2 linked regions of the Homo sapiens genome follow. The protein of the gene in region 2 purifies or fractionates together with the protein of the main gene of each other region. This does not show direct contact. Each region holds a gene or a part of one and is shown on either strand. Other genes may lie near its edges.

Evidence for each region. The genes of interacting proteins can lie anywhere in the genome.
Region 1: the proteins of SPRYD4 (region 2) and GOT2 purify together in Homo sapiens (co-immunoprecipitation; one large-scale study listed by IntAct). This does not show direct contact.

What each region holds. Positions count from the first base shown.
Region 1 is NC_000016.10:58,727,817-58,731,316, reverse strand, and holds part of GOT2 (aspartate aminotransferase, mitochondrial isoform 1 precursor), read left to right. Parts: intron 1-3,500. UniProt on the Homo sapiens protein: Catalyzes the irreversible transamination of the L-tryptophan metabolite L-kynurenine to form kynurenic acid (KA). As a member of the malate-aspartate shuttle, it has a key role in the intracellular NAD(H) redox balance.
Region 2 is NC_000012.12:56,471,578-56,475,077, forward strand, and holds part of SPRYD4 (SPRY domain-containing protein 4), read left to right. Parts: coding exon of another isoform or gene 1-66; 3' UTR 67-195; coding exon of another isoform or gene 196-259; 3' UTR 260-541; coding exon of another isoform or gene 542-618; 3' UTR 619-1,112; coding exon of another isoform or gene 1,113-1,174; 3' UTR 1,175-1,650; coding exon of another isoform or gene 1,651-1,743; 3' UTR 1,744-1,885; coding exon of another isoform or gene 1,886-2,017; 3' UTR 2,018-2,966; coding exon of another isoform or gene 2,967-3,143; 3' UTR 3,144-3,268; coding exon of another isoform or gene 3,269-3,319; 3' UTR 3,320-3,466; coding exon of another isoform or gene 3,467-3,500. Other genes in the region: GLS2 (glutaminase liver isoform, mitochondrial isoform 1 precursor), read right to left, coding at 1-66, 196-259, 542-618, 1,113-1,174, 1,651-1,743, 1,886-2,017, 2,967-3,143, 3,269-3,319 and 1 more.

The DNA of each region.
Region 1 (3,500 bases), on a different chromosome or scaffold from region 2:
AAAAATTAGCCGGGCATGGTGATGTGCACCTGGAGTCCCAGCTACTTGGGAGGCTGAGGTGGGAGGGTCGCTCGAGCCTGATCGCTTGAGAGGTGAAGAGTTGCAGTGAGCCCGCTGATCACGCCGCTGCACTCCAGCCTGAGCAACAAAGCAAGACTGTGTCTCAAAAAAAAAAGATCACAGCTGTGCTATTGTCTCTGCCATTTTTAGCTCTGTGATTGTGGGCAAGCTAATTAACTTCCCTTCTGATTTTAAAGTAAGAAGAATGTGAGGAAAAGCAGTTTAAAAACTGTAAAACTTTAAGTAGGCTTAAGCTCCAGGGAAATTACAATGCGTTTCGATTGGAAAGGCTTACCTGAATACTTGGTACCTAACCTCTCTTGGATGACCAGTCAATATTGCTCAATGTTTGAGGCTTTGTGCCTGTATCCAAAATGTACTGATAGAAATCACTTTCTAGGTCACAGGTTATCAGCATGAGTTTTGCCCCTAGAACACTCCTATTTTCATCTACTCGATTCCTTTAAAAACATCAGAGTTCTTACAATATGTGTGTAGTCTTTACCATTTTAAGAAATGGAATAATGAAAGGCATGGAGGAGTTGAAAGATGGTTACTAATGTGGGGCTAATCAAATTGAGTATTCCCTCTAGGCCAGGTGCCGTGGCTCACACCTGTAATCTCAGCACTTTGGGATGCTAAGGTAGGAGGATCACTTGAGCTCAAGAGTTGGAGACCAACCTGGGCAATATGGCACAACCCCATCTCTACAAAAAACTAGCCAGGCACGGTGGCACACACCCATAGTCCCAGCTACTCGGGGAGGATCACTTGAGCCCGGGAGGTAGAGGCTGCAGTGAGCCGTGGTCACGCCACTGCATTCTAGCCTGGGTGACAGAGTGAGACCCTGTCTCAAAAAAAAAAATTGTATCCCTCTAGGAGGGGAACAACAGACACTGGAGCCTACCTGAGGGTAGAGAATGGGAAGAGGGAGAGAATCAGAAAAAATAACTGTCAGGTACTATGCTTATTACCCAGATGATGAAATTATCTGTACACCAAACCCCCAGGACATGCACATGTACCCGTGAACCTGAAATAAAAGTTAAAAAAACCTCCCATGCCTCTGCCCTTCAGATGCTAGTAGCACCTGCTTTCCCCCAGAGTTTCAACAAACAGAAATGTCTCCATAAATTGTCAGTGTTCCCTAGCTAGGCAACCCCTTCCTCTCTCTCTGGCTAAGAATAACTTTCCTTGTGATCTGGATTATAAACTTGTCTCAAGCAATAGATACATAGTTTTCATACCTGTGTTCTTTAATCTGTACTTCATTTTCAATCTCAAAACTAGCATTGTAATTGTAAAATGAACATAATTTATTACATTTTTAAAAAAAAAATTGAGTATCCCTGCTCCTATATTTAGATTGTTTAAAAATTCAGTATTTTGAAATTGTGTTTAGAATTCTTAAAAGACAGAGGCTGGAGGGCTGGGGCTGAGGGAGGGTGGTGGGCCTGCGGGGACATTCTTACTGTGCAAACATAGCGATAAAAACATGTCATTTTCCAAAGCAAAAACAAAAACAAAAAAAAAGAATTCTTAAAAGGTATACCAGAAGACACAAGTCTATGGTTTCTGAGTTTCTATGCTTAACATTTTAAAGAACTTGAAAAATAAGTGCTTTTCACACCATTTAACAAGAATGATGCTTTCTCTCCTTGTGGTAGGGAGCAATGGGCAGTGGCTTTGTTATGATTGAGGGTCTTGGAGGATACAGACCATTGTTTTTTCTTTTTCTTTTTCTTTTTTTTTTTTTTTCTTCCTGAGACAGGGTCTCTATGTAGCCCAGGCTTGTCTCAAACACTAGGCTTAAGTGACCCTCCCACCTCAGCCTCCTGAGTAGCTGGGACTACAGGCAAGAGCCACTATGCCCAGCCAGACCATCTTTTGAAAAATGAAAACTTTTCCAGAAGTGTTCTCTTTTATAATCTAGTATGTCCTTGACATTCAGGGTATTCCTTTCACTCGGCAGTTAATGACAGTGATGTAGATAGACAGGTGGCTGCATGTTTTCAGGGTCTGAATTGTGGATAAGTAATAATGAAAGCTTTCTTCAGGCCCAGTTCAGAAGTTGGTTTAAGGTATCTGTGCTTCTTACTATTGCCTAGGTACTAGGAACAGCCAAGCAACCTAGAGCCACAGCAACACAAAATGAGAGGCAAGCTATTAAAAGAACTGGCACCAACACTAGTGAGGGGGAAGGGTGATAATGGCAGTGTCTCCTGATTCTCTAGAAAAAACTATGCAGTAGTAATTGAAAAGCAGAAAAGGGCCGGGTGCGGTAGCTCACGCCTGTAATCCCAGCACTTTGGGAGGCTGAGGCGGGCAGATCACTTGAGGTCAGGGGTTCAAGACCAGCCTGGCCAACATGGCAAAACCCCATCTCTACTAAAAATAAAAATAAAAAAATTAGCCGGGCGTGGTGGCGGGTGCCTATAATCCCAGCTACTTGGGAGGCTGAGGCAGGAGAATCGCTTGAACCCGTGAAGTGGAGCTTGCAGTGAGCTGAGATCGTGCCACTACAGTTCAGCCTGGGCAACCCAGTGAGACTCTGTCTCAAAAAAAAGAAAAGCAGAAAAGGTTGGTTGGAGGGTTGTGGGTTATTGTTAAACTGATTAACATTGTCTCCCCCCACAGCCATGCTTGATTTGCTTTGTATTTAAAGAGAAAGAAAAACAGAAAGGACCTGCATTTGGTCACAAGGTCTTACGGCTGCATATGCTCCTTGAATTCTCTACATACTGGCCTCACCAGGCTCTGTACTAGGATGCAGGATGGTTACAAATAAAAGTGGAGTGATAATAATTTAGTAACGATGACTATTAGCGAACATCAGGCACTCTGCCAATTTAGGTTTTGAGTGTTTTTTTCATCATTAGACCAGCCCTGTGAGATAGGTAGTTTTATGGCCCCATTTTACAGATAAGGAAAGTTGATGCTTGATTTACTTGCCAGTGCTCACACAGCTGGCAGGTGGCTGAGCTATTATTTGAATCCGTACAGTTTGCCCAGTACTGAAATTACCCAAGGCAAACTATTAAAAGAAACATTACAAGAAATAAGAGCCTGGGAAATCCAAAAAACTGGAAATAATCTGCCCTTTAATAACAGAGAATTGACTGTACACACTAATTAATTACAACGATTGAGACTGCAGCAGTCTTTAACTTGTCAAGGGAGCATGAATTAAACTCTGTACTGCCATCAAGTGTGCCCCATGGAGGAGTGAGGTGTATGAGTGCTGACTAGCCACAAGTACATTAAGAGAACCTTTGTTGGGAAAGAAATGTTCATGAGGTAATTCACGAGTTTATCAGCATGGTGAACACGGAGAACTTCCATGGTACCATACTGAAACATGTGGCTGATTCACAGTGGATGAGTGATTACTAGGAGAACTTGAGCGATTCTCCTGCAACAACCCCCAGCTCCTTCTCACC
Region 2 (3,500 bases):
TGAAGCAGTTTGACCACCTCCAGATGGTTGAACTGCACAGCATCATCCAGGGGAATGTTGCCCCACCTGAGAGGAATAATGATATGATCAGGCAAAGGAGACGTGGAGAGTGGTGGTTGTATATATTTGCATGGTGGCTGGAGGGTAGGTGGAGAAGCTGTGCCCACCCTCCTCCACTTTTAGCCTATTCCTCACCTGTCCTTGGCAAAAGGATTCACTTTGCAAGCCTCGATCAGGAATTTAACAACTTCGATGTGTCCTAGGAATATGGGCAGAAGGAAAATGAGAAGGCGCAGGTCTTGAACCCTTTGGTGCAGACACTTAGCCACTGAAGTCTTTACCAAGAGGGGAGGGGAAAAGGCCTCTTCCCATTTTGTACCCTGCAGCACTCAGTCATAGTCTAGCTGCAAACCGAAGGGTGTCTAGATAAAACTAGTTGCTGCCCCTATAACCTTGAGGGCACATATAATGAAGGTACTTTTGGTGAAAAAGAAAGGGTCTTATGATTACCCTCCTCCTCCCCTCCTTAACCCTTCAGTACCTTCAGCTGCAGCAACATGCAGAGCTGTGCGCGAGTCATAGTCTTTCTGTTCCATATCCATGGCTGACAAGGCAAACCTGAGGGTAGTGGGAAAGCAGCTAGAGTTGCCTAGATCAGACTGGAATCACAGGTGTTCTTTGTGAACTGGTGTCAGACTGGATGAGTTTCAGAGAAAGTGAAACAGCCTATAGCCAGATTTGTTGGCTCTGAATAATCTTTTTTCCATATCCAGATGAGACTGTTATACTCATATTAGAGAGATGGGAATGTGATCCTTCCAGAAATATCACTCACTGCCTACCTGTGGTAAGTGCCCATTTGAGGCAGGGTACCTACTTCCTAGGACACTGCTCTTAACACTCAATAACAATGGCTAACATTAATTATCATAGAGCAGACAGTTTACTTTTTTTAAAAAAAATCTCCTTTTTTAAAAAAATTTCATTTAAATGCAATCTATATCCATTCTAATTCCAAAGCTGAAGCACTTAACTATTTTGTTACGCTGCCTCCTAGTAAAATCTCTGACCAGGAGTATTTTATTGTGTATATTTGGTCACAGTAGCATTACCTTCGAAGAGCTGAGACATCGCCACTATAGGCAGCAAATAACAGGTTGACCACAGTCTTGTTCTGGAACACAAATCATACCCACATGACATTAATTGAACTCACCTATGCCAGCTGTGCCCTGTGACCCTCCTCCATGGATGCTTAGTCCAAGGGTATTGCTGAAGTGTTATGGAATGTGCTACTCTGAAATATTCTTTTTTTTTTTTTTTTTTTTGAGACGGAGTCTCGCTCTGTCGTTCAGGCTGAAGTGTAGTGGCGCGCGGTCTTGGCTCACTGCAACCTCTGCCTCCCGGTTTCAAGCGATTCTCCTGCCTCAGCCTCCCAAGTAGCTGGGACCACAGGCGCGTGCCACCACGTCTGGCTAATTTTTTGTATTTTCAATAGAGACCAGGTTTCACCGTGTTAGCCAGGATGGTCTTGATCTCCTGACCTTGTGATCCGCCCGCCTTGGCCTCTCAAAGTGCAGGGATTACAGGCGTGAGCCACCGCACCTGGCCTTTGAAATATTCTTACAAGCCACCTGGAGTTTTCCTTACCCGAATTTCTGCCCCTTCACGCCGTGGGTCTAACTTCCGAGCACAGTGCCTCAGGTTGTCATAGTTGTGGAAATTGAAGAGAGACACCAACTTCTAGAATTGTAAGCCAAATATATTGTTTATTTACTCCTTACACTTAGTAGGAGCTCAAAATTGCTTTATTATAGTAAAAGTGGTACCATTAAACAAATTTATTGCTTCAAAAATAGTAAGTACTATATGCAAAGCATCTCACCTGGCAGAAGCTGGTCCCCCTATGGCTGTTCCCCAGCTTGTCCAATGGGGGTGACAGGCACATCATTCCCATGACATTGGGTACCACCAGGAGGATGGCTCCTGATACAGCTGACTTGGCTGGCAGGCCCACCTGGGGAACAGAACTGAAGCTGAGGATAAAGTGGGTGTGCCCCAAATCAGAAAATAAACAAGTTAGGCTGTACTCTTAACAAGTTTACAAATGACTGCATGACCACAATCCACCTCAACCTTTTGGCTTGTTAATTAGCTTCTTTTATTACTCCTGTCCTTTCCTTCCCTTAAATTCATTGATTCAGCTAGAAAATATTTTTTGAAATACTTACAGCATTCTGTGCTAGATGCTGTGCTAGAACTAGGAACTTCCATTCTGGTGTTAGGAGATAGGTAATAAACAGGTAAATAAATAGACACGTAATGTTTAAAGTAATTGTGATAAATAGTGAGAAGTAGGGTGCTGTAAATAGAGGTAGAGGGGGGCCACATGAGATAGGGTGGTCAGAAAAGTCTTTCTTTGGAAATGACATCTAAGCTGAGACCCCAAGGAGAAGAGCCAGCAATGTGAAGCACAATTCAGGAGCTGCAACACCTCTGGTTGTTTTTCTTTTTCTTTTTTTCTTTTTTTTTGAGATGGAGTTTTGCTCTTGTTGCCCAGGCTACAGTGCAATGGCACAATCTCGGCTCAGTGCAACCTCTGCCTCCCAGGTTCAAGCACTTCTGCCTCAGCCTCCCAAGTAGCTGGGATTACAGGTGCACACCACCACCCCCGGCTAATTTTTTGTATTTAGTAGAGATGGGGTTTCACCATGTAGGTCAGGCTGGTCTCGAACTCCTGACCTCAGGTGATCCACCTGCCTCGGCCTCCCAAAGACATCTCTTTATATATTCGAGGAACTTGGTGTTTTTGAGAAACTCGTCTAAGGAGTCTCAACCTAATTGCCTTCCTGGAAGTTAGTGAATGAGAGGCAGGAACAAGCTTCCACCTCTATCTTGAGAGAGTCAGTGTTCTCTCTTCTTAGCACTGGGCTCATGACAGATGGATAGCAGAGCCAGAAACTCACGTGGAAGGCAAACTGGCCAGAGAAGTCATACATGCCGCAGGAATGCATGAGGCTGAGGGTGTTGCGCACTGCTTCAGCACTCAGCACACTCTCGCCTGTGATGGGGCAGATCCCACCGTTGGCGAGGGTGGCTGCCATGACACTGCCTGATTCACAAGTGACCTCCACAGAACACAGCTATGAAAACAAAGAATAGGTGAAGATGTGACGTGAACCTGCACATGGGACCCTCGGGTGTAGGGAAAGGGCAAGGGCAAGGACAGTCTGTCCTGTTCCCTCGGCCCTGAGCAGTGTTTTCTTACCTGGAAGTAGAGATCAAGGGCAGCCATCATGTCCACCCCCTTAGGAAAGCACTGCAAGGAAGAGAGGGGAGAGCATTTCTCTTCAGGACATCAGCCCTTTCACACTGTCAGGGTCTCAGCTGAAGCCCCCAACCCCTACTGCCCTTCCACTAGCAGCAGAATTCCCAGGGACTTTCTCTTCCGGCCTCTTCTGGTTACCTTCTTTTCCTTGAGATAATAGCCGATGGCATAA